3 separate regions of the Homo sapiens genome follow, and all the other regions are linked to region 2. Evidence: fine-mapped expression QTL. A gene starts in region 2. Each other region holds a variant in brackets. All regions are shown on one strand. Distances are from middle to middle. Region 1 holds the start of UQCRB (ubiquinol-cytochrome c reductase binding protein). Region 2 holds the start of PTDSS1 (phosphatidylserine synthase 1). Region 3 overlaps PTDSS1 (phosphatidylserine synthase 1).

Evidence for each region. PIP is the estimated chance that this variant, and not a neighbour inherited with it, causes the effect.
Region 1: its variant is fine-mapped to the expression of PTDSS1 in whole blood (TOPMed, PIP above 0.99).
Region 3: its variant is fine-mapped to the expression of PTDSS1 in whole blood (TOPMed, PIP 0.98).

Annotation. Positions count from the first base shown.
Region 1 is chr8:96,225,643-96,236,264 of GRCh38, reverse strand. It overlaps UQCRB (ubiquinol-cytochrome c reductase binding protein), which reads left to right and starts at 720. Exons shown (of 4, transcript NM_006294.5): 1 at 720-753; 2 at 3,038-3,109; 3 at 4,325-4,491; 4 at 5,133-10,622. The coding sequence starts at 735. The coding sequence ends at 5,210. It overlaps UQCRB-AS1 (UQCRB antisense RNA 1), which reads right to left and starts at 972. Exons shown (of 2, transcript NR_183275.1): 1 at 704-972. RefSeq lists an enhancer at 714-993. The variant C/G (reference allele first, on the strand shown) is at 4,704.
Region 2 is chr8:96,257,151-96,267,772 of GRCh38, reverse strand. PTDSS1 (phosphatidylserine synthase 1) reads right to left here and starts at 5,871. Exons shown (of 13, transcript NM_014754.3): 1 at 5,554-5,871. The coding sequence starts at 5,732. It overlaps MTERF3 (mitochondrial transcription termination factor 3), which reads left to right and starts at 6,163. Exons shown (of 8, transcript NM_015942.5): 1 at 6,163-6,272; 2 at 9,073-9,416. The coding sequence starts at 9,083. It overlaps LOC105375652 (a long non-coding RNA gene), which reads left to right. Exons shown (of 3, transcript XR_928431.3): 2 at 1,436-1,517; 3 at 2,881-2,967. RefSeq lists enhancers at 4,946-5,185, 5,331-6,023, 6,506-6,565, 6,717-7,410 and silencers at 5,336-5,515, 5,566-5,935, 6,116-6,265, 6,018-6,342.
Region 3 is chr8:96,328,385-96,339,006 of GRCh38, reverse strand. PTDSS1 (phosphatidylserine synthase 1) reads right to left here. Exons shown (of 13, transcript NM_014754.3): 11 at 8,726-8,794; 12 at 7,912-7,981; 13 at 2,012-5,550. The coding sequence ends at 5,441. Among named protein-coding and RNA genes, the nearest start is that of PTDSS1, 72 kb to the right of the region's middle. The variant G/C (reference allele first, on the strand shown) is at 4,507.

The DNA.
Region 1 (10,622 bases), 32 kb after region 2:
GAAGAAAGGGGATCTGGCTAGGGGCAGTAAATTTCTCGCGGAGTCATTAGGAGAAAAGTGTGTGTGTTGGGGTGTAAACTTAGTGGAAGATAACGGTTACTTCGGAAAGTATATTCAGGTCCAAAGCAGCCCCCAGTTTCGTCTCTGGTGATAGGTGCTATTTTCTCCCTCTGGTAAGGGACGGGTACTCCAGAGGAATCCTGGAGGAAGCTTTATGGCTTGCTGCATGCAGGAAGAGATAGGTCATCAAACCTTTTCTGAAACTACAATTTCTCCAATATTTTCAACTCGAAATAATCAATGTACCAATTCCATATATTTTTGGGATGGCACATCCATCAGTCCTTCAATAGAAAGTAAGACGATGCCCTTAAAACATTTAGCTTCCTGCCTGGCACAAAGAGCTGAATTAATACTGTCCACGCTCCCATAGCTATTAACAGCAAATAACAGAACCCAGCTTTAAGCCTTGGTCTCCTAATTCCTGACCTGTGTTCTTCCCATCACATCACAACCAATACTTCTTAGAATGTAGCACGCAAAATGCCCCGCCTACTCCATTGGCCTCACCCTGGCCGAGAGGTGCTTACGCAGGTGCTGAACGGCAGTCGTCAGAACTGCGCCTGCGCAAGCGGCCTTTCTCTGTTCGCGATGTGACGTAACGCGCCTGCGGACTGGGCCCAGCTTGTCCTCTATGACTTACCCAGAAGGCAACGCTTCTCTTTCTGGTCAAAATGGCTGGTAAGCAGGCCGGTAAGTAACTGGGGGTCTTCTTGGCCGGCATCGTCGCGCTTCACCGTTTATTTTTGCTGCAGCTTGCTCCGTTTTCTCTCTTCTTTGTAAGTGGCCAAGTTTGTCGCGGAAGGGAAATTGGCTGCTTCAGTCCAGTGAAAAGGATGTGCTTCCCCACTCGTTTGCTGTCCCCAGGGCGGGCTTGCCTGTATAGGGTTGGGATGTTAACCCGCTGTTTGTGAAGGTGCCCGCGGTGGCTCTGACAGCCCTGGAGTTCCAGCTGCCCGTGCTTGGAAGTCCTTCCCCTTGGCCTTAGAAAAGTTAAAGGGCACAAGAGGATAACTAGTGGATGACTTTCAACCCGAATGAGCTCAGTGCTTTCTATGACCCAAGTGCTCTATCGTGTGCATTGGCCCTATAAATTTTCTTGCCATTGCGACGAGGGAGATATTAATTTCCCTTTTACGCTGATAAGATAACTGAGGCAAAGTGACCCAAGGAAGTAGAATTGGAAATATCATTGCACCCCTCGCGCTTCTCAAACTGCGAATCAGAGACAGTTGAGCAAGGGATACGAGCGACGCTTCAGGTTGACCTTGGATTATCTAGAGCGTCAGCTTGATCAGTAGGTTTGGAGAAATTTGAATTTATTGTAGGTTCTTTTTTTCTTTTTTCTTTCTTTTTTTTTTTTTTTGCTAATCTCTGCCCTCTGGCGGTACAAGTTGGAGTAGCCGTTTTGTTTGTTTGTTTGTTTTGTCTTTGAGACGGAGTCTTGCTTTGTCGCCCAGGCTGGAGTGCAATGGCACAATCTCGTCTCACTGCAATGCAACCAAGTTGGAGTAGCTTAAAAAATGTTGATCCTTTTCTCCCCGCCCCCAGCAATTGTGAAGCTGTTAGGAAACATCAGGTTGCCAGAAACATCCGTTAACCTAATTGACATTGAGCTTTTTGGGGGTGGGGGAGACTTTTTAAATAATTATTTTATTAATTTGGCAGATATTGAAGGAGTCTTACTAAATTCAAGACACTGCTTCTGTGCGTGTTTGGGAACTACATAGACCAGATCTCAACTCCCATTAGCTAACTCTGACCTTGGGTGGGATCACTTCTGTAAGCCAGCTTCCCCTTCTGTAGTAACAGACATGTAAATAAATCAGCTAATGTTGGTAAAGCAAATAGGAAAGTGTTTGGTGCACAATAAGTGCTTAGTGAATATTATTATAGTCACTGATAGGTGGTTGAATATAATCTGTCTTCCACAAGTATGTTTGTAGATTGTTGACTGATACTTGTTTTTCTAGCAGCAGTTTTATACATGACTCTTAATTTCCAAGGAGATTTGCTAAAGCCACGTAATCTGTAGTGCACTGAGTTTGCAAGCAAGGAGAGTTGAGTGAAAGGAGAGTTTGCTTTCCTTCCTTGGTAAGGGCTAACCCTAGACAAAATTTTAAAAGAGAATACAAACCTGTTCTACCTCTCCTTTTGTAAAATGTCTCTCCTAAAATGTCAGATACGGTCCTGCTGTACTTGGACCCTGCTGGGTTACTTCATCAGGCTCAGCCCTGTTCCCCAAACAGTTTTAAAATTACCTATTTCTCATCCTTTTTCAATATCCATTCCCTTGGGGGGAACTTAGTTGCTTAGGAGGAGGTAAATGGACTTCTTTTACGAATCCATATTAATGTTTAAATGACTAATGGTATCAAAATCCTCCCCAAAATACATACATTTTTAAAGAATGTGGCCAAATGAAATAACTGTAATATCGAGTAAAAATTTTAGAGGATGAGGGTCATTTAGACCTGCCAGTCTATGCTGAAATCTCACTGTCTTTTCCCTACAACTCCAGCTCTCTTGAAATGAAAAGTTTACAATTATTTCCTGTGATCTATTTATGAAACTACAAATGATGGAAATTTCCAAGTCCTTTTCCTATCTCCCACCCCTTCATTTCTGAAGGTAACAGGGCAGGCATAAGGGCACACGATGTACCTATGGATCTTTTGTACATTCAGTGTTTGAGTTTACCCTTTTCTTTCATGACTTGCCACCATTTTCCTGCAACCACTTTTGCTCATAAATAAAATAAGCACTTTTTATCAACATTTTATAGAGTATAAACTTTTTTCTTTTAAATCTAATTCTTTTGATTAAATTCTTGCTGTATATACTATATACTTTTAAAAGGAAATTTATTTCTATGTTTGCATTCATCAGCAAGATAACTGAGTACTGGTTGCTTGCCTATCAATGTGTTCATATAGTATAATTAAATTGTAGCAATTAACAGTGTGACAATTATCAGTTTCAGCATCAGGCAAGTGGCTGGATGGTATTCGAAAATGGTATTACAATGCTGCAGGATTCAATAAACTGGGTAAGCAGCTGTGCTGTTTAATGTTTTTTGTTGTTGTTGTTGTTTCTTTGTTTTTTTTTTTGTTTTTCTGAGAGTATTGCTTTTGCAAGTGTTACTGTGGTTCCAAAAACCATTTCAGTTCTTGTATACATCAGAAGATTTTAAAATTAAATCACATTATGTTAAATCCAGTTCCTTTTTAAAGTTTTTTTGAGAGAAGAGGGATGAAAGCCTCTAAAATGTTCGACTTGGTAATGATTTAAGTAGTAAGACATTTTCCTTCTACACCCCCTTTCCCAACTCTTCCACTTAAAATTTTATTTATTTATTTATTTATTTATTTGAGACAGAGTCTTGCTCTGTCACCAGGCTGGAGTGCAGTGGCGCAATCACGGTTCACTGCAACCTCCGCCTCCCGAGTTCAAGTGATTCTCCTGCCTCAGCCTCCTGAGTAGCTGGGATTACAGGCGTGTGCCACCACGCCTGGCTAATTTTTTTTGTATGTAGTAGAGACGGGGTTTCACCATATTAGGCTGGTCGCAAACTCCTGACCTCAGGTGATCCACCTGCCTCGGCCTCCCAAAGTGCTGGGATTATAGGTGTGCACTACTGCGCCCGGCCTTCCACTTAAAATTTTAATTTAAATTATATAAACATTGAAAGTAGAGAGTTTTTGAATATTAAAATTTTATCACGTCCATGCAATCATATGATTCCTAAGCTTTTTTAGAACTTTGTAATTTACCATGAACTTCATCTTTTACTATTGAAGCTTGAAGAAAGTGTAAGCAAAAGTCACTGTTCCTTAGTATACTATCATTTTAAGATTCTTTAATACCTTGATCTCAGATTTAAACTATGAGAAAAAAGAGATGTGGTTTATTAATGTGTGTTTAAAAACAAAGTAAACATTTAAAATATTTTGTAAATGGTTTAGATAAAATATGAATTTTGTGGCATTGGATTTTAAGAGGCTCATATATTGTTTCCATAGTCTAGTTCAAGAAGTAACCCATTATATCAAGTAATAACTCATTACTTTTAATGGCAAAACTGCAATTACTTTTGCACCAACCTATAATGTATGAAATGCATTGAATTTCCATTGAACCTAGTGATTTGAATTCGATAGTTCACCAAAAGTTGTAAGTTATAAGTCATAAAGGTATTTTACTAATTTAAAAAAACCGCGATTTTTGAGATGCATGTGCAATCTAACTTTGTCATCTATCATAGGGTTAATGCGAGATGATACAATATACGAGGATGAAGATGTAAAAGAAGCCATAAGAAGACTTCCTGAGAACCTTTATAATGACAGGATGTTTCGCATTAAGAGGGCACTGGACCTGAACTTGAAGCATCAGATCTTGCCTAAAGAGCAGTGGACCAAATATGAAGAGGTAGCACAGCTTTATCTACCTGACAGTGTTGCTCATTAAGGATGGAGTTTTAGAAACAAGAGAAACATGTTCATTTGCATAGTGTTAGAGTTCTCTGAGTCATGTCAAATAAATATGTGAGGTTAATAAAGCAAATGTTATTTCCGTTTTAGAAGAAAACCACATTGAGTCTTACGTGTGAAATGATTCTTCTGAAATTACTAAGCAAGTCT[C/G]TAATATAGAGAGCCAGGACTAAAATCCAGGTCTGTTGCCTCCCAGGTCTTTGCTGTTCCAGCTCTGCACTCTGCTTCCTACTTAGATGAAAAGATCAGCCCATTGAGTGTCCCTCCAGATCCCAAGAAGAGCTTCTGTGAAGCAAACTCTCACCCCTTGAACTGCATTGAAACTAGGCAAAGGCCTGTGGACATTCATTTCTTTTTCTTCCCGAAAAGACTTCCCCCTCATAACCTATCAAAGCAACTTATCACACCATCACCACAGATTTGACATTTTAAAAAGCAGATAGTTCTTAGGTTGAGAATATGTTTTCTAAAATTGGAAATTCAAAAGTAATTGCTTTTTTCTTGTTATTGAAGACCTGTTGAGTGTTTGGGATATATCAGTACGTGATGGTAACATATAATATTTCATTCATTCTTTAGGAAAATTTCTACCTTGAACCGTATCTGAAAGAGGTTATTCGGGAAAGAAAAGAAAGAGAAGAATGGGCAAAGAAGTAATCATGTAGTTGAAGTCTGTGGATGCAGCTGTTATGAAGATGGTTAAACTTGAAACAAACAATTTTAAGAATTATTTGGTCTGAAGATGTTTTACTTTAAATAAATGTCTATTGTAATGGCTGGAGTTTTTGAATTCCAAACCTTATACTGAATAACTACTGAATCCCTTTACTGTTAAATTTTTTTCCAAACTTTCAAGATATATTTAGTTGTGTTTAACTGCTACTTGGAGCTCAGAAGCCACTTTATCAGTTTTCCTCACTGGTTGGATAGCCTATCAGTTTATGGAAGGATATAACTTCCGTAAGTTACATCCTTATGGAAGCTACTGAATAAAAGAAGGGGGTATGCACCCCCTAGTTTGCCAAGATTGAGAAATAGCCTCTTCACTGGTATGCAAACAGATTTGATTTTGCATCCTATCATTTAAAAAGAAATTATGTCTGCACCCCAACATAGGCATACTTAAGTAATATACATACTCCTGTGCTAACATGTATACTAGAAAACAAAAAGATGTTAGAAAAATAAAAGTATAAAGACAAATCATACTGTCCCCATATCCCAGTGACTTTTCCACTTTGGAAATGATTGTTATGAAGTTTAAGGGTTGGATACTAGTCAGTTAAAAGTTTTAAGATTATAGGGTAATTTTTAAAAATATAAATTAGAATCATTGGCAAGGCATGGTGGCTCATGCCTGTAATCCCAGCACTTTGGGAGGCCGAGGCGGGCGGGTCACCTGAAGTCAGGAATTTGAGACCAGCCTGGCCAACATGGTGAAACCCTGTCTCTACTAAAAATACAAAAAATTAGCTAGGCGTGATGGTAGGCACCTGTAATCCCAGCTACTCGGGAGGCTGAGGGAGGAGAATTGCTTGACCCCAGGAGGTGGAGGTTGCAGTGAGCCTAGATCACACCACTGCACTTCAGCCTGAGCGACATTGACTGTCTCAAAAAAAAAATTAGGATTATTCAATGTTGTCATCATTTCCACTCCTAAATTCTGAAATGCTTTCTTTGGTAGAGGTGAGAGTGTGGAGCCACAGCTAGTAGAGAAGGAACAGTAGGACCTGCAGCCTCCCTGGTTTTCCAGGACAAGTCATTGCTGTGTGTGGCAGGAATGCCTTACCTCAAATAACAAAACAGTGTGAAAAACGAATTTGTGTTACATTTAAAGTTTGTAAAGCAATGAGAAATGTGTGTATCATAAAGAGCATCTTTAAATTTTTGCTAAAATATTAGCCTCTTAAATTCTCTAGGAACCCCCTCCCCCGCTTTTTTTTTTCCTTTCGCTGGTCGTTATTTTTCTAAACCTATCCTGAAATCATGTCAATTTTCTTTTGTATGGTTGAAGACAACTAGATCACTTGATAATGGTTTTGCTCAGGTCACATTGTGACAAGGTTTTAATGTAGTCCTACTTTGCAGAAGGAGGCCAAGAAGATGGGCTGTCTAGAACCCCCTTTAAAAGCATTTGTCTATTCAGAAAATTTTCCTGAGTAGATCTCTGCAAAGGCTCTTTTAATAGTGATTTCAAGATCACGTTTGCAGGACTCTGGTCTATTCGTTCAGACGTCTACTGTGCACAATTACAAGGAGACTACAACTGAGGCATCTCAAAGAGCACTGTCAAGGTGTGTAGGGAGCCGGGTGGGTGGAGGGAGGCTGGGCTCTGACCCTAGAAACCATGCTTATGAATGCTGTTAATGTTTAAAGCAAGCCTAAGGGCACTGCTGAAGGACAGGGGAACAAATAGAACTGACCAAGACTGAGGTATAACAGGAACCCCCAGGCTATCCACCTGCTCAAGGTAAAGTGTGGTATTACATAAGGCAACCTCTGATTTTGTAAGAGTTCTTCCTAAAGCCAAAGTGTATGCCTATTCTATGTTTCCAGATTACTTCATTCTTCTAAATGAGAACAAGTGTGCAAAAGTTCTTTGAACACTAGATCAATGTTTTGTGTTCATTATAAATTATGGTTATCGTCCTGCTTGTTATGAAGACTAAGAAAGTAGATCTAGTATTTGGCTCACACAGGTGAATGGGTGAGAATTTGTTAATCCATCAGTGAAGTCCTTTCATTTGAAAGAGAGGGCCTTTCTATTATCAAAAGCCGTCCTGTGTGGAAAATCACCATGAGAGTGCCTGAAACACAGGCACTCTGCATTGTCCTGTAGACCAAATCTACATTGTCCTGTAGTCTGGTCTACATTGTCCTGTAGACCGAATGGTAGAGTGATTCAGAGCTAATTCTGGGTTAGACTGCACAGGTCTGAATCTATTTGCTCACTGTGTAGTGCTTTAGGAATACAATTTAACCTCTCCGTGCTTCAGTTTGTTTGTCCCTAAGATAGAGCTAATGATAGAAACCTACTTCACCCAGTTGTGAAAATTAACTGACTGCATGTCAAGCACTAACAGTTTCTGGCATATAGTATGCATAATGTAAATTATGTGCTGAGAAGCGAGAAAGAATAACTTGGGAAAACGCTGAATATCATCAATGTCGAATAGCTAACCAGTAGCTAAGGTCCAAGGTCTCCTCTCTTCCTTCTATGTGGCACTCTTGTTTCTGGTTCATCTACTCCCCTTGGGTGTCACCTCCTTGAGTGAAGTACCTGCTGGAGATGAGAAGAGTGGAACTGGATCTGCATGACAGCTTTGATTAGGATGGAGCTAAGACTTGGCTATCTCCCTGTTTTGTGTTTTGGATGGGTGACATTTTAAAACTGCCAATATTCAAATCCTGCTAATTTGCTTTGTACAGTTTAAAATGTTTGATATCTTTTGTTGTTTAAAGTTTGAGATTGGTTTTGAATATACAGTTTTCCTACATCTTGAAGAAAGTTATGTTTGTTTACTCTGAAGTGGTCTATGTTCTGTTTGTTTGTTTTACTATACTTTGCAAAAAAACAGATGGCTGGCTTATGTTCACTGTTGTAGTGCACTACCTAGTATCACTTGGCCTTCCTGTTGTCAAGATGTAGGAAGCAGCGTAAGGGATGTCGGGCCTTCAGACCCCCAATTGCCAGCTGTGGTCCTAGTTCCAGATTGCATGGAAATATTTGATAACATTCCTGCACTGAGTTATCATGGTCTGAATATTTATGTGACGCTCTACGAGTGGTACCAAAATGTTAGTGATGGAGTTTTTACTAATGGCACCTTTTCCTGTTTTTAAATTCTAGAATCTTAATAAATCCAAAGTGTACATTTTGGTAGTGATTTCATTTAGTTATTTACTTTAAGGACTCCCTTTTCAAGCATTAACTCTGCACTAATTTTGACTTATGAAAAGATTCAGCAGTAAGAATAAAAACTGGGCCAAAGCCCAAAGTAATAATCCTTCACAAATAGGATGGAGTTTTAAAAATATGGGCATCCTGTGTGTAGCTTTGAAAATAACCAAACTACTTGGAATTAAAAAGTTAGGTGAACATGAAGATTGTCATAACCAAATCCTTGACAGCTTGATGGATGAAGAGCAGATGGGTTTATGGTGTATGGGAGGAAGCATGGATTTTAGGAGGGACAGTATCAGAGAGGGATGGTTAGAAAGTGAGTAAGACAGGTTGCTCTTTGGAAAACAAGGAAAATCCCTTTATTAGAACAAGGCATGAAATTCTGCCACTAGGTGGCGATGCCCTATAACTTTACAACTTAGTGTACATCACACGAGCACTATGGAAGATTTCTCCATTCTGCGCCCCACCAACTCCCTCCCCTCCTTCATTTTTCAGGATGACAACACCTTAGAGGTTTATGGCCATCAGGAGAATTTACTACTAAGCTATATACTGATGTAATGAAATCTAATATATGTTGTGCAATGAATTATGAGATGTTATTTAGTTTCAGGATTTTATTACTTCAATCAGTTATGACCATATTTCCTTTTATATGATTGCTCACTCTTTAAACATACCAGATGACTGTATAAGGAACACCTAATAAAGTCTATAGATGTTAAAATATTTTAAATGTTTTAATTTATATGCCATAATTTGTTTACATTCTGGTTATACTGGCGTTCATATTAAAAGCCATAACATGTTAGAATCTGAGATCTCAGGTCGGATAGTGCCTCTAAGTTATATTTTGCTAAGAAATTTTATTGTATTAGCAATTGAGCAAGAAAGAAGAACTGAATCATTATACGGTGGTTAATTTTTAGCATAGATGTCAGAAAGCCTGTTAATATTCCAGAGGCTTATGATAAACTATTTAAATTGTCATTCTGGATTCTGATTATATCTCCTACAAAGAAAGAGTGTATTATTTATTGAACTTTTTGTTTGAATACATGTGCCTATTTTTGCATAAATGTAAAAATGTAATTTTAAAATAAACCCCTGAAAACTTCTGGTAACATTATCCAGTTGAATAATTGTTCTGTTAGTATTCTAAATATTTTAAGAAAATTGTATACATATCTGTGACAATTGTATTCACAAGCCAAACCAAAAAAAGATAATTATTTGTTTTACAAAGGAGTCAGCTTACAATTTTTCTCTTATGCATGCATTTAAAATGTGGTTTGCCATTAAACTGGAAACACTGATCTGAGGCCAATGATTTAGGCAAGTCATTAGTCTAAAGATTGGCTTCCTCAGCTAGAAAATGAAGGGCTTTGACTAAAAAGTCTTTTTCATTTCAGTACCAAAACATTCTGGGTCTGTGATTTAACTTACGCTCTTTATTGTTGGGATGAACTAATACTGATGGAATACTAGCTTTGTACTAGGCACTGTTCGTATGTTGTCTCTTTTAATCCTCCCTGCAACCTTCTGGCATGGCTATTATAATGCCCATTGTATGGAAGAAGAAATTAGGCTTCGAAAGTCCATTTTATGCTTGTTCATTACATAATTTTCTGGATTTTTTAAATTGATGTATGTGTTTATGTTCCAGGCTAGGCAGAAGCTAGGAAGAATATAGCAGCCTCGTCACTGTTGAAATCTGGGGCTAGATAATTCTTTGTTGTGGGGGCCTCCTCTGTGTGTTACAGGATATTTAGCAGCATCCTGGCTTCTACACGATAGGTACCAGTAGCGCCTCCTGCCTCCAACTGTAACAACCAAAAATGTTTTGAGACATTGTCTGGAAATGTTCCCCTGGGGGAGCAGAATTGCTCCCAGCTAAAAACCACCAGTGTAGGGAATACAGAGAAAAACCAAGATGGTAGAGACAGGTATGTAATCAGATGCATGAATATGTAAACATAGATGTACATACTGTGTGAATTGTCCACAAAAAATATGTACTGGGTACTATGGAAACATGGAGAAGGTAAACTAACTAAACCTGGATGGGAATCAGGGCCTCTGATAATGTGGCTGATTCCAGAACAGTAAGCAAAGTTAGCTAAGCCAAGAAGATGGTGAAGGGCTTTCCAAGCAGAAGAAAA
Region 2 (10,622 bases):
GGGATAGAGGTGGGAAAGTAGACTTACTCCATTACAAAGGACGCTGGAGTCCAGCTAGTACTTTCCTATAGGTGACAGGCATCTACTGAAATACCGATGTCAACCAGCTTTGGTGTTATCTTTCATACCATACTAATTTCGTTTTATGGAAAGTCACAATCCTTGTGAAGAATTACAGCTAAGTTATCAAGTAAAGCAGGAGAAAGGTGATATGTTTTAAAGTATTTATTAGATAAACGAGAATTTTAAACAGGGAAAGATGGGACCATGATTTTGTCTAAAAAGATCACAGGGGCAGCACTGGAGGGAGGGGAAGCCAGGGCCTGAGAGTCAGCTATCCCAAAGGGTTGGGAGTTTGCTGAGCAAAGGCTTGGGAACGGAAAGAGAACAGTCCCGAAAGCTATAAAGGCCCAATCAGACCTGCTGAAGATAAATGAGATGGTGAACTCCAGGTTGGGAGAAACCTGGGCTAGAGGCAATGAGGACTATGAACTGTTGAATTGAATTAATTGAATTAAATGGGATGCCAGGGCTGAGGAAGCAGTGCAGGCTGACCGGACTAGTCCTCGTTCTGGGATTAGTTAAGACTGAAAAACTGTAACTTCTCTACAGAAATCTGGGGCAATAGGAATTATGTCACAAGATAAATTGTGTTACATCTGGTAATAGAACTACATCTAAAATGCTAAACACAGTTTATTCAGAACAGATGAACTTGAATTAAGGTTGCTTACTAAAGAGGAGTCTGAAAGGCAGCAGTTCCTAGGTATATAATCTCTGTGGGCTGAGGCATCATCTAAGCCAAATAAATATTTAAGTCACCCAAGTGCCCATTCACTGCAGTAGACCCCAGAGAAATATATGGCACATTTCCCCCTTTAACAAATTAGAAATCGTATTATGGACATAAAACTCTGGAAATCAGTATAAGAAAAAATGTAAAACATTAAGTTCAATAAAAAATTTGATTCAAATGGTAACCAGGGAAAAGAAATGTTAACAATCATTGATAACTGGACCTCAGGTGCAACCTAACACAATGTTCACCTCCAGGGCTGGTTTAATCCTAGCCCATAATCACTATAGATGAGCATTTAACATTGCTAGTGTCAGCCAACAAGGGCATGCAGGGCTTTTGTTGCTGGGAGAGAAGGAACATGATGTATATAAAGGAAACAGGATAAAGACAACTGAATCAGCAGTATCAGGGGACATTTTCTAATGGGAATTTATGTGGTCAAGAGGGAAAGAACAGGGAATGCTAGCAAGTATCCATAAGCAATATAATACAGGTGGCCACAAGTATGCCCCAATGATATGACGGTGAACTGGAGTTCCAAAGCCAATAAGGGAAATTAAGTAAAAACCATTATTAACAAATCAATCAGTCAATCAATCAGTCTGTCCATTTCCCTGTCCTTGCCTGTCTCCTTAGTTCTAAATCGAGGAGAAATGAAGCATAGACAAATTGATGATCACTTAAGTACACAAATCCGCAGAAAGGCAACGTCTTCTAGGTAAGTAACAATTTTTGTTGGACAAGTGCTAACAAAGGCTGATTCTACTGTTTAATGGCAGGTGCCTCTTAAGGAGAGGTGGGCTTCTTTGAATGTGAATTAATAGATTCTGGTGTTTTCTAAATCTAAAGCTTGAGTTTTTTAAACTAAAGGCATTCAATATTTCCAAGTTTACCAACCCCTGAATGCAGAGTAAATATGAGGGTATCTTATAGGTAATTATTATACTCTGAGCTTGAGACAAAAGTTTTCCTTGCCCTACTTTGCTAACAAACTTCTAAGACATATGCGTAAGCATTTATTTATAAAAATACTATTTATTTTTTAATAGAGATGGGGTCTTGCTATGTTAGCCAGGTTGGTCTTGGACTCTTGGCCTCAAGCAATCCTCCCACCTTGGCTTCCCAAAGTGCTAGGATTACCGGCGTAAGCCATTGCACCCAGCCTACTTATTCTAAAATGTGGGAAAATAAGTTTTTGGTTTTCTTTTGAGACAGGGTCTCATTCTGTCGAGTGAGTAGGGTGGAGGCTGGAGTATGGTGGCGTGATTCAGCTCACTGCAACCTCTGCCTCCTAGGCTCAGGTGATCGTCTTACTTCAGCCTCCAGGTGCATGCCACCACGCCCAGCTAATTTTTGTTTTGTTTTGTTTTGTTTTGTTTTGTTTTGTTTGTTTGTAGAGATAGGGTTACACCATGTTGTCCAGGCTGGAAATGAGCTTTTTCAAATAGGAAAATGATTAGGTAGTATCTAACTTTATTTTTAATGATGGTGATAAAGACAGGAGATATTTAAATACTATGGTTTAACAGGGAATTGACCTAAGGGCCATCTAACAAAAGAACTACTTGACAAATCCAAACTTGTCTCAGACTTCAGTGCAAGGTATCTAATCCTCTGTAATTTTAAATTCTTGCTGGATCTCTGAAGCATGTGACAGTACCCAAGTACTGTTTCTCACATACTGGTTATATGACATCCCAAAAGAATCCTATCTCCTCGTTCTCTTAGACAACTAGTCTTTGCAAAACAAACTTTAAGACATATCTTTTAAGTTTTACTGAAAGAATTGCACTGAACAATTGTCCAACTAAAATCTTATAAAATAAATAATAAGGCACTGGAGTTAATCATTACAAAAGAACATAGGATACATTTTCATTTAAGAAGTCGTTACTTTCCGTCTTTATGGAGGAATATAGAGCTATCATTGTAATGCCCCACTTAAGTCACAAATCATTACAAAAAATGAGTAAGATTTAGTAAGTACGAATTCTATTAATGGTGCTTATGATTTTATATAAAGTGAAACTTGTTATTAATTAGTTCTTCATTATGTGATTTCTGTCTCTTTATGAAATTAGTGGAAGAAATAAAATTGTTAACATTTTTGGATGAGACTACAGTCTGAAGTTCAGATTATGGTTCTTCTATTATTTTGGACAAGCTGTTAAAATTCGTATTCATTTCTTATACTTTCACTGCTGCAATTTATTGACTGCCTTGACAGAATATGATGTAAAAGGAAATTTCAGAAGATTGTGACTTTTTATATCAGAAAAGAGGAAGAGAAACCTATTTTGAAAGGACCTAGAATAATATTAAAAATGAAAGGCTGAAACAAATGGCTCATTCTTGCTTCTCATTATTTAAAACAAAATACCATAATTATTTTTCTAATTTCCAGAGAAACTCCCTCACTAATTTCATTATTTCAAGCCCACACCTAAGATGAAGTTAAACTGAAGTTAACATCAAACAGGTATGTATGTTATCTAATGTCCATTTTTCCAGTGCTTTTATCCTTCTCAATTACAGAGCATACTACATCCTCGTTCAATAATAAATATAAATTAGAAGACAGTAGCATTCAATGAAATCACATCGTAATAACCACTAATGTTTATTAAGCACTTAATACTTGCCATGCACTGAGCTAAACAGATTATCTAAAAAGATGAATTTAATCCTCATGACAAATAATCCCGACAGATTAATGTATTGATATTTTCATTTTACATACAGATAAGGAAACTGAGGCCTAGCAAAATTATGTGGCCACACAGCTATTAAGTGATAAAATCAGGCAACATAATGAAGTATTTGAAAGTAACCATAGTTAGGGACATGATTCATTTCTCTCCAAAGCTAGAAATATGTCTGGTCAGGTACTGTGGAAAGGTCTGGTCTTCACCTGCTGCACAGCTTTAGCAGATTTTATAGTAATAGTGGCAAGATCCCTCAATCATTAAAGAGTAAGCAATTGTTACTTAAGCTTTATACCTTTAGGTAGATTCTTTCAAATGGATAAACACTTACATAACAAGAACCAAGAGTCAAATGAATCCCAGAGGTAAGGAACAAGTGTGATGTGGGAGGATATTAGTTTTATGAGGATTTGAAAAACTGCAGTTATTCCTAAGGGAGGCACCACCGGCACTTGTGTGTGTGTATGCAAACGACTGTGTAGAAGACAATTCCCTTTATGTTGTACAGCGCTGTCACATATGTCACAATACATTTAGTATCCGTTAACTGCTCCCCCTCCCAAATACTAGAAGTTCTCTCAATCCTTGTGACTACCCAATATATATATCCCTACACATGTTCTGCTGACCCTGACAGAGAACCTTGATTGTTGGATAAAAATACTGGGAGAGAAGTAACTGACATGAATTGTACATTGTGCTCCAGGGACTCTGCTAAATGCATTCACACACATTCATTTAATTTTCATAACCCTATATAAGTAGATATTTCATCCCCATTTTACGAGTGTGGCCCCTGAGGCTCAGAGCAAGGTTATGCAACTTAATTAAGGACACACAGCCAGTTTTGAAACCAAAAGTGTGGCTCAAAAACTACTCTACTCTAAGTTGGCCTTTTAAGCCATAATGGTGAGAGAGGTGTGACTTCCCTTTCTTTAAAGAGGTTCATTCAGAAAGTATAAATCATTCTAAGTAGGAACCACGGTGTGTACCTCCTTATGAACCAAGGATGAATTAGTTCTCTAGGTTAGGAATGAGGAGCCACAGGCGCAGTGCCAGAGTTAACATGAGGTGTGTTCAAGATTTGGGCTGGGCAGCTCCTATGAACCGGTATATATTAGAATGTGTGTGTATGTTTTCCAGGGAATAAGAGAGTTGTGTTATGCTGTGTGAGGTTTATGTGTTTCATTTAACACACAGCAGTTACTATACCCCAGGCACCATTAAAATTGCTGGACAAGATCACATTTCAGCACGTATGTTAGGTAATGAGTGAGCAGGGTATGCACCGCGTGATGTGTGGCGGGCTGGTGTCTGTGCAGCCATGTACACAGATGATGGGTATTGGGCTGTGCTGGAAAGGAAAGGTCCGCTGTGAGGTGTGTGTTTAGAGTGGCAGTTTGTGCCGTGGTACAGATGGTAGTGTTTGAGGCTGGGGGAAGTGTTATGCTGGATGACTTGTGTGCAATGCATACGGGAAGTGCTGCACAGGAAAGACCGTGTATGCAGCACACATGTGCATTTTTTGTGCGTTACGGATAGTGCCGAATACCGGAGTTCCACAGGAAGGGATCTAGGTTGTGTCCTGGGCCTGTGTATGGTGCCTGCAGGCGCTGTGGATTGGGGTGCTTTGTATGTGTAGCGGTGTGTGCTGAAAGTGGTGCATACGACATGATTCATGCGGTGTGCTGGGTAGGGACGAAGGCTGGAGCAGTGCAGAGGAGGGGCCCGCGTCGTGATGTTGTGTGGAGCGATGCTGAGTGCGGTGGGTGAGGGGGCGATCGTGCTAGGTGACTCGCGTGCGTTCCCCGTGTAACCGGAGGCGCTGTATGGAGAAGGGGCACTGAGGGGTAGGGGAGCAGGCTAGCGTACTGTGAGACACCGGGCGGGCGGAGGGGCCGCGTGGGCGGCGGGCTGCCAGTGCGTGTGCGTGGAGCAGCCAGCCCACTTCCTCACCCAGAGCCATGCCGGGCCCCCCTCCCCGCCACCCTCCCTCCCGCCTCTTCCCTAGCCCTTGGACGCGCCCCCCGCTCGGCTGGGCCGCCCCACCTGGTAAAGGCGAAGTACATGAGGCTGACGATGGTGAAGCTGAGCAGGGTGATGGTATGCGGCCGGTAGAAGAAGTCAATGGTGATGTCCTCCACTTGCTGCTCGTTGATCATCCGGAAATGCATTTTGTAGTTCACATCATCCTTGCTTAGGGTCCGGCTCCCCACGCAGGACGCCATGGCCCGCCTCCCCGTCCTGCCGCGGTGGCGGCGGCCCCAGCCCGAGAAGGCCGGGACCCCGGGGGTGACTAGCCACAGTAGGCTAATAGCCGGACGGCAAAGCCGGGTCTGGCGCCCAGCAAAGGCTGGGAGCAGAGGGAAGGACAGGCGCGAGAGGGCGGGGTCGCGGCGCCGCCACCGCGGCCTGGGGCAGGGGACGCCGCCGGCCGTCCCCACGCTGTCATCCTAGCTGAGGCATCTCTACCACTCGAGGAATTTTCAGACTCCAAGTCCACAGGACTTCAGAGGAATAGCGAGCCGGAGAAGGGTAGCCGGGGCCCCTGGCTGGCTCTTTTCAGAGCACGTAGCCCGCTGTCTCCCCGCGTAACCCGGCACATGGTCTCGCCCACTCCGGGCGCGGCCCACGTGGGCCCGGGAGCGCGGCTGCGCTGTGTAGGGCGGGCTGAGGAGCCGGCGTGCGGCGCGGCGGGACGGGACGTGCGGCCCAGCGAGTTGGTCGGTCCCGGGGTCACCCGCTACGGGAAGCAGGCCTCGCCACAGGTAAAGCAGGAGCTGCCCCAGCACGAGGATCGCGCTCCTGGCGAGGGTTCAGGTTCCGGCGCACCCGCGTCCAGACCGCGCCCCAGGGCCTCAAGGGCCTTTAGGTTTTCGCGGCCCAGTAGAGGGTGATTGGTTTTGTTTTGTGTTTTTCCCTGGCTGATGTAGTGAAAACTCAACCATGCTGGCTAATTAGCGCAGTGTGAGAAGCCTCAGGAGGGGGCTCTGCCTTCCTGCGCAAGTTTGGGGAACTGAAGTGGGCTAAAATGGCCTGGGAAGTATTGAGAGACCCTTTATTAGGAAGCTGCCCCCATAACCTCCCTTTCTCTCCTGATTTCATTTATAGCATTTCGTAGGTAGAAATCTTGAACTCTATTTCAGTGCCTTTTTCTAGCGAAGCACTAGGCACTCATTGAGAACAGTATATATGAATTGTTAAGAGACTTCAGTTTCTTTAAGGGTTTTCTGTAATTTTCCTGATGAAAGGACCTTGTTAGAAGACTTCAGGTTACCACCTTACAGGGCTTTTATACACATCTGCACATCCCCTACCCGCTTTTGCATACTGTGTAAGCAAGTGAGTTAACTGTACTTGCCATTGATTTATTTCCATTCCGCAAACATTAGAGCAGTACAAGGCTCTGGGAAAGTGGAGAATAGTCCCCGGAAGGATGGATCCAGGGATGAGACCCAGCTCTGCTCTCGTGCATGAACAGTTAATCAATTGTTAAGATGTGTAGGCAGCAATGAAAGGATGTGGAGAAGATAGTGCACTTGTAAATAAAAATGCAAGGATAAACATTAGTTGTATGCACAAAGATCTTTTAATGACGGGGTGAAATTTGAAAGTGAGTCTTCCTGATGTTTAAGTGGTATTGAGTGTGGAAAGGCTTCAGGATGAATTTGGGATTTCAGGAGTTTGAAGTAGGATGAAGTGCTTAGACGTCAAAAAATGTTAGAGCTGATAGGGGCCTTAAGAATCATCTTATTGTACCCCTAGCCTTTTAAAAAAGCATTATTTGAAGAATAGTTATTGACCCCACCCCCACCCCCCACATCATGGGCTAGACTGCTGCTTTTGTTAGACTGCTGCCAGAAACAGCCTTGTCAAGGTAGCACAACCGAGGTCTTCTGACTTTCAATTTAGTGCCCTTATGACTACCGTGCAGAGAATGAATGTTGTAGGTTTGAGGGAAAACTTGGCACATTTGGAGTCCCATTTCCCACCAAAATCTAACAGAAACCACCTATCCCAGCAGGGTATTGTGAATACTTACTTCTTTTCTAAAATCATCGCAGAATGGGCCGAGCGCAGTGGCTCACGCCTGTAATCCCAGCACTTTGGGAAGCTGGGTGGATCACCTGAGGTAAGGAGTTCGAGGCCAGCCTGGCCAAGATGGTGAAACCCCGTCTCTACTAAAAACACAAAAAATTAGCCGGGCATAGTAGCGGGCGTGGGTAATCCCAGCTACTCGGGAGGCTGAGGCAGGAGAATCACTTGAACCTGGGAGGCAGAGGTTGCAGTGAGCCAAGATGGTGCCGTTGTACTCCAGCCTGGGCAACAAGGGCGAAACTCCGTCTCAAAAAAAATAATAATAATAATAATAATAAATAATTGCAGAATGAAAGGAAACTTTCACTTTTGTAAAATCTCTTTCAGCAAACTTCCCAAAACTACAGATCTCCAAGAAAAGATTAGACCCTCAAGTATTTGGTCTAATTTAGAGCATAAAACAAGCTGAATTCCAGTATGCAGAAAAACAAAGTATAAAGTTGTAGGCAGCAATTAATTCAGCAGAATTTTTGTATTTGGTTGTGTAACCAATAATAATGGCTAACATTTATTGAGCATTTCTTATATCCTGACTCCATCCTGTGTTTTATATGGATAATGTTATTTAACGTAAGATTATATGCATCAAATTTACCTTTCTAATTAGCTGGCTAAATATAAAATCCCTTCATATTCCTGGAGTTTAACATAGCACTAGCCTTTCCTGATAAAAATATTTTTGAAAACTACTTTTTCAGTCAAAATATACAGGTATTAATTGCTGGTTGCTTATTTATTTCTGTCACTTGGTTTTGTTACTAGTTTTGACCTTTTCTTTTTGAAGGCTTTTTTCTCCTTTCCTACAGTGAAACAAAACTTGACAAAACTGGTTTTGTTCAATTCCCTTTGGAAGAACAGCTTTATCTGTGAAGTAATCAACAGTGTTCAGCCCTGAGAATGAAGCAAGAAACTGCTTTCACTGTTCTGTATATCAATGATAATATTTTGATGATTTGTTTAGGACACAGTAGATTTCTGTTTTTTCATTTTGGGACAAATTTATATACATAAAATGCATTTGAATAATTCAGTGTTACTTTGATCAGCAATGTGCTGCGGAAACACCCTTCACACCAAATTTCAAGAACACTTATTTGCATCAGCTTATTCTCTTTAAATGATTAAATTAACAGATTAGTGAGGTCTGCTGTCACTTGAACATTTGCAGATTTTTGTTTTAAGCATTTTTCTTACACCAGTGTCATTGCATTTTGTTTTTAAATTGTAAAGTATATCTTTATTTTTCCACTCAGAAGTTCCTGTCTGTTGGTTTGTAACTGAGATTGCCTTGTTGTTGGCTTTTCCTGTACATAAGAAACATCTCACTATTTTAGACTAAATATATATTTAAACACCTTTCAATTAGAAAAAAATAATTTCCAGTTTATCTTTTTGTTGTTTGAATACCGTTTTAAACATTTAAGTAAATTAAATTTCTCTTCTTTTGACGGTTATATCTTTCCTTTGTAGACTAAGAAAAATGGCTTTGTCAGCCCAACAGATACCCAGATGGTTTAACTCAGTTAAGTTGAGGAGCCTCATTAATGCTGCACAACTCACAAAACGTTTTACTAGACCAGCAAGAACACTGTTACATGGCTTTTCTGCTCAGCCTCAGATATCCTCTGACAATTGCTTTCTCCAGTGGGGATTTAAGACTTACAGGACTTCCTCCTTATGGAATAGTTCCCAGTCTACTAGCTCAAGTAGTCAGGAGAATAATTCTGCCCAAAGCAGTCTGCTTCCTTCCATGAATGAACAGTCACAGAAGACACAAAATATATCCAGCTTTGATTCTGAGCTGTTTCTAGAAGGTAATTCTGAACTTTCAGAAAAGTCTCCCTTTCCCTACTTTGGCCATTTGAACAAGCTACCTGTTTACCTTCTGCTAGCCCATTTCAGGTAATATTTTGTGCCAAGAAAGAAAAAGAATAATACCAGTTCTATTGATGAACTTCTATCATGCCTTTATTTTACTGGTAAGAAAAAAAGTTTGTGGGCTAACGTGTAAGATTATTTTATAGCTACACATATAAAACATTTGCTTTTTAAATATTTTATTGTTTAGATTCTTAAAACAAAATTCTTCTAGTGGTAATTAGTTTTATTAGGGTATAATTATATCAAGTAAAATTCATCTTGTGGGATATATAGTTCTATGAATTTTGACATATGCATTTAGTGTGTAAGAACTACTGCAATCAACAAATAAAACAATTATATTAACTCCACAGAGTTCCCTCATGGTCGCTTTTTAGTCAATCCTCTCCTTCCTATGGGTCCTATTCTAGGAATATTTCGCTGGTAATGAAATGATATAAGGTTAAGTAGAATATGAAGGAAAGAGAGCTGGGGAGAGGGCAGGGAGGAGATGCTGGCTATAAATGATGAGAAAGGATAGTTAATGATGAGAAGCACAAAACAGAACAAAAGATCACAGACCTGATTCCTTAGCTTAAGGTAATGTGTAGTTCTAAGTGTCTTCCATGCTGCGTTTGATTTTAAAAAAACAAAAACAACTTCAGAATCAGGGCTGTACTAGAGAGTCACATCTCCTGTAGAGAGGACTGCAGGTTGTAGAAACAATCATAGAAGCCCTTTTAAAGATGTATTTGAGGGTAACTTGGAAGGGAGGGCATTGGGTCAAAACAAAGACTTTCGGGATATGATTACTTTAATCCATGCAATTCAGACTGTTGGCATATGTGTACTTTTAGCCAAGTTAACAGGCTATGGTAAACTCAATCTCTGTTTCAAAATTCACTTGAAAGTTAGGTGATTTTTAGCATTCTCACCTACTGATTAAGTGAAGGAAAGGCATTGTGTGCTTTGAAATTTACCAACAAATTTCTAATCTCAGAGGAACAGTAGTTAGTCTGTCTAAATAGTTGTAACCTTACCTCTTAAAAGGTGAAAAATTAGGGACTTGGATGTTTAATTCTAAAATGATCCCAAGATTTAACCACTGAAAGAAGCAAACAAGGGAAGAGCTGGTCTTTGCAGAAATAGTTTTAAGTGTG
Region 3 (10,622 bases), 71 kb before region 2:
GTGGCCATCTCTAATCAAGCAAGCACCTGAGATCTGAGTCTCCTTCCAAGGAGGAGGAGGAGGAGCAAAGGTGTGGCGGTCACCAGGGAACCAGCTCCTTGCCATCCATTTGCCAGCTCTGAGGCCAGTGAGGATCTATGGGGCTGTGGTCTGCTGATAGGAGTAAGACATGTGCACAAGAATCCAGGGGAGGAGCCTGGCACAGAGTCTCAGGCTGTGTTGCTCCGGTGGCCCCCGGGCACCTCCTGGCCGTGTGCTCTATGTGCAAGCTTGTGTTACTGTGGCTGCTGGGAGGATTCAGGGACGAGAGGGAAGGGGTGCGGAGAGCCCCACACGGGGGTGTTTTGAAGGCTCCAATCCTCTGAATGCCACTGTCTGGAAGTCATGTTAGCAGTGGCCCTAGTGAACTCTTATTCCCCTGCTCCTGGTCTGGATTTCATCCACTCTAAGAGAGGTGGAGGATCCCTAACATTTTGAAAGCTGAAGATCTTTCTTAAGCCTTTCCCACGCTGCACTCATAAAATACCTAATCAGTCCATGACGTATGCAGTTGGAGAGATGAGATTGAGCCCAAACAGCCCTTTGTCGGGCGGGTGGGAACAGTCAGGCTTACAGCCCGGATTTCCAGTATGGATTGTTACATAAACCTTGCCTGCAATTTGACTCTGTAATGAAAGCTATTGTGTGTATACTTCAGACACGATAATGAAATATTTTGGTTTTTTTAGTCTCAAATGTTAGAAAACCAATTTTCTTTTAAAGGCAGACAAACTTCATTTCCTGTGGTTTGTAAAACCACAAGAGTCTCCTTTACTCAGCATCCAGAAAGGGGCCACACCCTACAATGGAACACCAGGCTCTGACGCCCTGGGATGACTGCTCCGAGGGGCAGGAGGTCACAGCTCTGAGCAAATCTTCCTGCCACCGCAGGGCACTGTCGGTGCCCACAGTTTGCAGACCCTGGCCAGGGTGATGTCTTGAGCATTCCAGTAACAAAGAAAAACCAGCAATTAACTCCCAGGCACAAGTACGAGCGTGAGCCCAGATCACTTAAAGAGGCTGGGTGGTTGGTTGCATCAGCTGTGAAAGCAAAACCCTTGGGTAAATTCTATGTTCTGAATGATGTTACTGTCCTCACTGGGGTTACGAGAGGGGAAGGGATCTGCCAACACCCTTCTCTCTGCTCCAAGAGGACAACAATGCTGGGGCTTAGGAGTCCCTTTTGCTAGAAATGCAGGCAGGAAGCTTGCTGTCACCCGCCTCCCCAGCTGGGTGTACTGAATATGGAGGTAGAGACCAGGCTTCAACCAGAGTATTATGAGTATCAGAGTATCATGAGGGATAAATTCAGCTTAGCCCTGTGAGGCCTTGGAGGTACTTGGACATGTTGCAAACCCTTGAACACTGTTAGACTGTGACAACAAATATCTCTTTGCAGGACAAGCAACTTCAAAATTCCACCTAACAAGCTGCAAGAAAGGGAATATCAGAGTAGACCAAGTCACAGATGAACTTTCTGAAATGGACTAAAGGCATTTTTTAGTGAACATGGAAGAAAAGGAAGATTTTTACAACGTAGCATTCCCACAACCTAAAAAAATTTCACATCCAACTGTTTTTTTATCTTCTTTGGTAGACATCAATGAAATAATTCCTTTAAATTCACAGAAGATAGCAAAATTAAAAAGCCATATTTATTTAATGCATCAAATACCAAAGTTCAATTAAGGAAACTATTGCAATCTTCACCTGAGATAGGCCCATCATCAGGTTAGAATAAAGTGTGATAAGGGGAAATGTTGTAAAAACCTCTTACGGCATAGCAACATGACTGCAGCCCACCAGTCTCAGCCATTACTGATACTGACCCTTGCAAAGAATCAAATCTCTAATATAATCCTGAGAATGTGCACACACATGTGAAGGAAAGAGGTGTATTATGTAATGGAACACTGATAGACAGACGTCTTAGCTCGCCTTACAGTTTTTTTTTTTTTTTTTTTTTTTTTTTGAGATAGTCTCGCTCTGTCGCCCAGGTTAGAGAGTGCGGTGGCGTGATCTCGGCTCACTGGAACCTCCACCTCCTGGGTTCAAGCATTTCTTCTGTCTCTGTCTCCCGAGTAGCTGGGACTACAGGTGCCTGCCACCATGCCCGGCTAATTTAAGTATTTTCAGCAGAGACAGGGTTTCACCATATTGGTCAGGCTGGTCTCAAACTCCTGACCTCAGGCGATCCACCCACCTCAGCCTCCCAAAGTGCTGGGATTACAGGCGTGAGCCCTGCGCCCGGCCAGCTCTCCTTACATCTTGATTTCAATCCTATAAATGGGAAATGGTAGGGAGCACTGTCTAGTCTACTGTGGGATTTCTAGTTGTCATAACAATAAGAACCATATAAACAACGCCCACCTGGTAAACATTAGGGTGGCCCAGGAACTCTGCAGCAGTCACTGAGCACATTCCAAAGAGCGGATGTTAACCCCCCAACCCCGTATTTTAAAGGGCTAGCTTCAGTCTGGCTGCCAATGGTTACATTTTTTCTTCCCCACCTTGTGTTTAGCCTCCCCTTCTGTGTCCAACCTCCTCCACTTCTCAATGACCCCAAGGGCCTCTGTAAGTGCAGGATTCTACCCAAAACCCTCCCAATTCCAAAGGGTGGGCCTTGGCATAAAGAGGCATCATTCCAGGGTGCTACACGGTGGCTTCTGAGGGAAGACCAAGAAGGCTGAACCTGTTGTATTTGGTAATGAATTTTGTTTTCTCCTGGGTTGGGTGAGCACCTTAGGAGCTTACTGTGGAAGCAGAGTCCTAGCGAAAATAAGACTGGCATTGATAGGATGTCTTGTATCATCAAAATGCTTAACAGGTCCATGAAACATCCTAGCATTGCTGTGAGAGTGGTTCCAAGGTTTCTATGAATGGTGGAAACAGACACAAACGAAATGTGGGAAGAAGCTTTGGGAAGACCAAGAATGAAAAAAAGGGAAAAGAACCTAACACTCAATGCAATGCTACTTAAGGAGAAAAATACATAAACCGTTCTTCAAGCTTTAGGTCCAAAACAATGTTCTCTCTTAAGAGGGTGGTTTGCAAACAGGGACCATGAGATAATTTACAATCAAATCATTTCAGATATTGAATGATGATTCTGAAACACGCATTCTATTTCCATCAATGTGAGGTTTATTTCCATAGAAACGGTGAAAAAAGTAGGCCAAACCCAGCAGTATGGCTTCTAAAAGGAATAGCAGCTGTGGTTCTGGCCAGCCATGGAAAGCACTGGTTTTGTAACTACTATAGTAAAGAGCTCTGACTGAAGGGAAATAGAAAGTTTCAACTCAAAGAAAGGGCATGGAAAGTATCTGAGAACTTTCCTGGCTGTTTCTTACAAAGCCATGGAGAAAAAATCATCTCCTGTGCACCCTGCTCTTCACAATGCCACAGTAAAGTCGAATTCACCACCTGCGAAACAGCTGCCTCCTGTAGGCTGGCCTCAGAGGAAGCACACATGCTCCATCAGTTGCAACAAGGCGAAAGTCAGAAGAGTGTGAAAGTGTCAGGCCCAGTGCTCCCGGAAAATGAACCCGGAAACACTCAGTGAGGCACCACCGGTGTGAGAAAGAAGAGACAGGTGTCTTCTCCAATGGGCACAAGTATGTCATGCTTAGAAAAGCAGAACACAGGATGAAACAAAACATATTTATTTGCAAAGAAAGATCATGTTTAAATTGTACCTGTGTTTAAAAATGGCCTCTTTGATGGGTTATAAAAGTGCAGGCAGGTTTTATGAAACACGCACTTTGCCTCTCTTCTATCCTTTTGTGGGAAGCAGGCAGATGCTGGCTGGAGGACATTTGAGAGCTCGGAGCTGAGGCTCATCACAGCCAAATCCCTCACTCACCAAGTGAGCGGAGCTGCCACTGACGCTTCTCCACTCCCGCAGAATCTACTATTGAGCACTGGGCCCCCTGAGGACAGGATGTGACCCTGGCTGGCATGATTCATTCAACCCGTTCATCTTGGAATTCTTTTGCAGAAAAAAAAAAAGTGACACTTCTATGGCTAAAGATTTCCTTAAAGAAGAAGAAACATCAGAACGAACCTTTGTGCTGTGTGAAATGAGGGAACAAAAGATTACTTTCAGTGAGTTGATATCTGTAAGCTAATCAACTGGGTACTGGCCTCTTGTTAGAGGAAAAAAAAGTCCAACTTGGAAACCATTACCACAGGAAAAAACAATGACTATGTTGTTCATTCCTGTTGGTCACTTGGGTAGTCTAAGAAGTAGGACATATATGTCTGTAAGCCCTTTAAAATACACATCTTTTCTTTTTTCTTCTCACTATGTAAAACACATATATATTATCCTAAAGTCACTTGAAAAACACAGACTGCTTACAATCAATAGAAGATACCAGTAAGATGCAAGAAAATGAGCATTTTACAGACAGACCTTTGATAGGCTTTAAAGTGAATCGTTTTTATTTAAAACAGGGATCCATCAGA[G/C]GTGGTGAACTATCAAGGTCAAGGTTCTAGAGCATGGCACAGATGAAAGGTAATACTCACCAGCACCTCACATGGGACTCAGTGACAATGTCAGCAACACACCATGGAAGGAGAACAAACCCGATGTAAAAGGCACCTAGCTGGGGAGAAGCTGTGGTGTTCACTGCCTCTCTAGCAGGTTTGCTTTTGTGCACTGTGGCTAAGTCTGGATGAATAATATTGGGAAGGGAATAATCGGAAGCGAGGCTCCTATGCAGGCAGCTACCCTCTCCTGATTGGTGTATACTCGCCATGTGGTAGGAGGTCTTACAGGAGACTGAGGTTACCAAACAGGAATACAACACCTCTCTCCCTTTTCTGCTCTAGAAGGAAGGGGAACCCTTCCCCCAGTATCAATTTCAGCAGCGGCTTCTAAAGGCTGTTAAAAAGCATCCTAACTTAAAAACAAATAACAACAGTAACCAAATAAAAGACAGAAAAGTGGCCTGAACTTAAATCAATCAATGGAAAGGTAGATTCATAAAAATAAAATAAAAACTGGTGACCAGTCCATTAACCATGGGGTTAATGCCTCGTCTGAAGGAAGATGTTTACGCTGCATCCACGATCCAGCAGGCGCGGAGCTGCTCTTGGCAACTGTGAATGAATAGCTACCGTTTCCCTTCAACACACCGCGCTGCCACCGGTGACCGCATGTCAAGTGCTGAAGTTAGAAGAGACCCCACGTTGGCAAAGGCCCCCCAGGCGATGATCTGCCTGACGCGGCCAGGTCTGTGGGAAACAAGACTTACGATCTCAAATAATGACCCCCAAGTGCCCTCGCCTCTTCCTGCTTGCCCTGTGCGCCTCGACCTCCTCACGGGGAGTTCCAAATGAGTTCCATTTCCCTCTCAGTTCTAGGCACTCTGGAACATCTTTGATTAACCAGGGTTTTTCATTTCTTTCCAACGCCATTGGTGACTTTTGACTTGGAATGCCGATTCCTTCTCCTGGAAGAATGGCTTTCGTTGTTGCCTGCATGCTTGGGTGGGCTGTCTTCAGAACCTGGCCAAAGGAATCAGAGCACACCGTCACCCTGGGCTCTGGAGATTGGTGACTGTCCCTTTCCAGACCGCCCTAGGCTTGCCGGGGAACAGGTTCTTCCCTGATACGTGCACTCCCCCTAGTGGCCTCATTCATAAATGAAGGCGAGGCTCTCAAACACAGAACTAGTACTGAAGGAGCACACGCGGTGGCGCGGGGTTCAACGCAATAGCGCCCCAAAGTCTGGGTGGTTCCTGAAGCGTGTGTACATCTGTCCTGTGTATGATGGACATGGTCATGATGGTGAGGACCAGAAGTGAGAGCACAAGTGAAACGGAAGCCCAAACGAGGGGCAATTAAAACACACACCACGCGGTGCCCATCCTGCCCTGCAACCAAGGGTTTCCATCCCTTCACCTGCTCCACACCACCTTCTAAACCCGACATCAGGAAAGACTCTTGACACTATAAAATCAGAGCTATTTCACACCCTCTACATTTGATCTGGAGAACATCTTTACAATTCAGGCCCCTGCTGCCCACGATGGAGGGCACTGGGCAGCCTCTGCCCTCCAGCTGAGCCTTTGTTCAGCCCCTGCCTGGCCTAGCGGCCAAGCCAAAGGGTTCTCTGCCCCAGGGCTCTGATCCAGCCCCATAGGAAATCTCCACCTGAGGCTGCCAACAAAAAAAAAGTTACCAGAGTTACAGTCTCCACTGTAAGGAGCATTTGACTTAGACTAAGAGATTCTTTCCCCACTCAGAAGACTTCTGTTTTTGTTATTTTTCTTTTTTTATTATTCCATCAAGTAAATACATCTCTACTACTGCTTAATTCTCTTCAGTGGAGAACCTGTAAGTGCCAAGGTTGTTTGTAAGGGCATGGTTCTAAATAAGATAGCTGGGGAGCCCCTCTGTCCATCTCTATCAGATTTCACAACGGGCCGCTCACTGATCAATTCCGTGGTTCAGGAGAAACTTTCCCCAAAAGGGCGGCCAGCAGCTCAGCAGAGTGTATGTTAGTGTCTCCCCTGGGAGATCTTTAATGAGCCTGATGCCAAAAGAACTTAGGAGAATGACTGCAACAGGGCGCTTTCTTCTCCATTGGCCCACCGTTTCTCTGAGCAATTTTGTGAGCTAAAATTCAGTCTTTAGTATTTCTAATTTTCTTTCTTCAGCCAAGCTTCCCAAGTAGCTTATAAGGATTGACGAGGAATTACTGTCCAATGAAATCACCTCAATGTCATTATTCTACAAGTCTAATTCTTTGAAATAACCAGGTGGCCCCAAATATTCCCAAAGTGATCCTTAGAGGCCAGTGGAGGTTCCCTAACTACACGACCAAAATCTCTTACACTGCCCTGCCTCTTGAATAAATGCCATTAAAATGATCCCCCTCTTTTGAAAGGCTTTTCCTCCTGATACACAGTACCTTTTTTTTTTTTTTTTTTTTTTTTTTTTTTAAGAGGCAGGGACTTGTTCTGTCTTCCACATGGGAGTGATCCTGGGCTCAAGTGACCCTCCTATCTCTGACTCCTGACTAGCTGTAACTACAGGCATGTGCCACCACATCTGGCTAATTTTTTAAGATTTTTGTAGAGACAGGGTCTTGCTCTGTTGCCCATGCTGGTCTCAAATACCTGGCCTCAAATGATCCTGCCATGGCATCCCAAAGCGCTGGGGTTACAGGCGTGAGCCACTGTGCCTGGCCGGATATACAGTTCTTCCTGTTCACTCATGATGGAAGCCAAGAGGAAGAACGTTCCCATCAGGGTGCTTGAAATGGTGTGGGGCCCTCACGAAGGGCAGAGCTACATGGAGCCTCTTCTTACAAACCAAGTCTTTCACTCAGATCCTGTGAGCATTTTGCATGTTTCTTTTTCTTTTCTTTTCTTTTTTTTTTTTTGAGACAGAGTCTTACTCTGCTGCCGAGACTGGAGTGCCGTGGTTTTGAGACAGAGTCTTACTCTGCTGCCCAGGCTGGAGTGCAGTGGTACGATCTTGGCTCATGGCAACCTCCGCCTTCCAGGTTCATGCGATTCTCCTGGCTCAGCGTCCTGAGTAGCTGGGACTACAGGCGCCCGCCACCACACCTGGCTAATTTCTGTATTTTTTGTAGAGACGGGGGTGTCACCATGTTGGCCAGGCTGGTCTCGAACTCCTGATCTCAAGTGATCTGCCCACCTCAGCCTCCCAAAGTGTTAGGATTACAGGCGTGAGCCACCGTGCCCAGCCATTGCATGTTTCTTAATAAGTGACAGGAGACATTCAATGGGTAGGCCTGAGACCCTTCAAGGCTTATATCATCTCCACTCAAAGAATAGGTAATAATTCCACATCTCAAGGACCCAGTAAAATTTTAAACAACGAACAAGAACAAGATACCTTTTGTCCCTTTCCTGTGATGCCAGGAGATCTCTGGACTGTAGGTGCCATCTTCACACTCCGAGTAGGTCTAGGGAGAGAGACAGGCTTAGTGCAGGAATTTTAGGAACTCCCTGGGAGAAGTGGCAGGGCAAAAAGGCGAGCATGCTGCATCCCTGCCTCTCCCAGGCTGGGATCATCACTGGCAAGTGACAGAACCTCCCTGTGCTTATATTTCTCTGCTATAAAAACAAGGTTCTTTCCTCTCACAGGTGATGCAGAATCAATCTTCCACAACATGCCTTAAGTTCTTTAGACTGAAGGTGTAAATAAAGGATGAAAGTGTTATTTTTACCGAAAAAAATATTACCGTCTACCAGACGGCCATCGTGTCTTAAAGCCATTCATGTCTATTTTCTATGGTATCCTCATATCTACTAAATGAAGGTCAGGGCAAGCGTTTGCCCAGAAGAGCCACAGGCCGGAACACAGGAAGAGGCCTCCACACAGTTCAAGAGCTGGGGAGAAAACCCAGCTTCCAAAAGCCAGTCCACAGCTTTCCCATCACTTTTCTTTTTTTCTCCAAACAAACATAACTTTTTTTATCTAACAAAAGTTAGACAAAAATATTGGTCTACTGAACAGAGCCGTCACAAGCAGGGCCAGCAATGGCTAGGGAATGAGTTGTGACATGCGGTTTCTGCAGTGGCAGGACTGGAGGCCCCAACCTCAGTGTTTACCTCGCCATATCCTTACAGGCACGTGCTCTGAGCGAATTTGCCGAGCCCGGGGTGATTATTTTAAACAATGGCCATGCCTGCCTCTCCTTCCATACCTTTTCTCGGTGACCATAGTGTTCTGCATACCAAATCATGCCGTACAGACAGAGGAAAGTGGTGAAAGCCTGGAAGAGAAAAACAAATGATGCTGCACAAAAAAGTTCAATTTCCCAGAACTTCAGGGTTTCAGTGGGAATCAATGCAGGACCGTTCAATGCATTTCTGCCGTCTGGACGCCGGTTACAAAACGGCTGGACGTGGCAGAGATCAGACCTCAAGGGGAGGGTGCACACCCAAAGCTTCTGACAACAAAGGTTATGATGAGACCACAGTTACTACCTGTGACTCTACTATCAGAAAGCAAGAAAGACAATTTTCAGATGTGCAATATGGTGGGATGCATTTTCTTGATAGCTTTGCGGGTTCTGTTGAAGAAGATAGAGAGGATTCTATGTTCTAGTTCTGATTTTCAGGGTCCATTCTCTCCCGGCTTCCCCATCACAGGAGAGCGCTAAGAGGACTCAGTGTGTCAGCTTCTAGGGGGAAGAGGTCACAGCGGCACCTGAGGGCCCACGGACAAACACTCCCAGGGTAGAGGGTGGGGAGCTTAGCTGGACAGGGCTGCCCTTGCTTTTCCAGGCTTTTGAGTGGACCCCAGTTTTTATTGCTTTGTTTTTCTTGGTTATATGGATAGGAAAACAAAGAGAAAATAAAGATGCTCTTAAGGCCCTGAGTGGAATGAGGAGGGTGTGGCCTGTGGGTGCCCAGAGGCAGGGACAACCTCTACTCCACACTTGCCCCACTCACTGGGCCTGCCCCCACACCCTAAATTATACCCTAATTTAAGGAAAGAAAAGCACAGACAAGAATCCAAAGTTTCAAAACATGTCAAAAAATCAAAGCTTAGGAAAAGTCTCCAGCTGCCTGGACTGCATACCAAAGGCAGGAGGGAGGGAGGGTGAGCGGTAGAGCAGGGCCATGAATCTCCCCGGCCACACCTTCCCCACTGCAAGCAAAGCAACCAGAACAAAACAAGGCAACTGCCAGCTCCTTCCAAATTCCTCACTCTAGAAACCCATTCACATCAAGCCATCCTGGCTGTTGAGCCTCCATCTCTCCCCCTGCATTTCCTGTGGACACCTGGGCACCTGTCATTTTCCTGGACCCCTCTCATCTTGCACCAACTGTGGGGACAGCTGTGAGAGCATGGAGGGACCTTCTCAAGGAAATAATTTTAGTTCTAAGAATCATAACTTTAGATCCAAAAGGTCACCTCAGAGACCATTAATTTCATTGCCCCTCATTTTCCAGAAGAAGAATGAAAGCTCAGAGAGGTGAACATTGGAGCCGGAACTCAGATCTCTTGAAACCCCCGGATCTGGGTTTAAGGGATGGCTACTGATACAAATATTGGCTTTATGTCTATATAGCTTTATTTCTCCATCCATGTATCCATCCCTGAGAACGAAAAGCATCATGGGAACAGTGAACAGCAGCAGCTTCTCCTCTGCACAGCCACAGTCTGGTGGTAGGGCGGGAAGGCAGGGGCTGTGAATTCTCATCATGGCAGCTTGCAGTCGAGCTTTGGCCCAGTTCCTTTATCAGCGACATTTCCTGGCAGCTGCTGGATACACAGTGCCTTCTTAGTTCCAAAAAAGAAAGGAGAGCAACACTCTGGCTAGCTGTCCTCTTCCGTGCCAGTTACGTGGAAGCAGGAACAGTGGCAGCGTGGAGAGAGAGTGAGAAGCACAAGCAGCGCCACTGGTTCATTTCCTACTAAACCCACGTGCAAACTGGCATATACCTACAGGTTAGGGATTTATTAAAAAGCTCATATCCATCAAAAAATTAGGCCACGAATGAATACATTAAAACTACAAAGTGAAAATGACTTCCAACCTTTAACATACTCTAATGCTTGCCCAGATTTCTTAGATATACCAACGTTAAGTG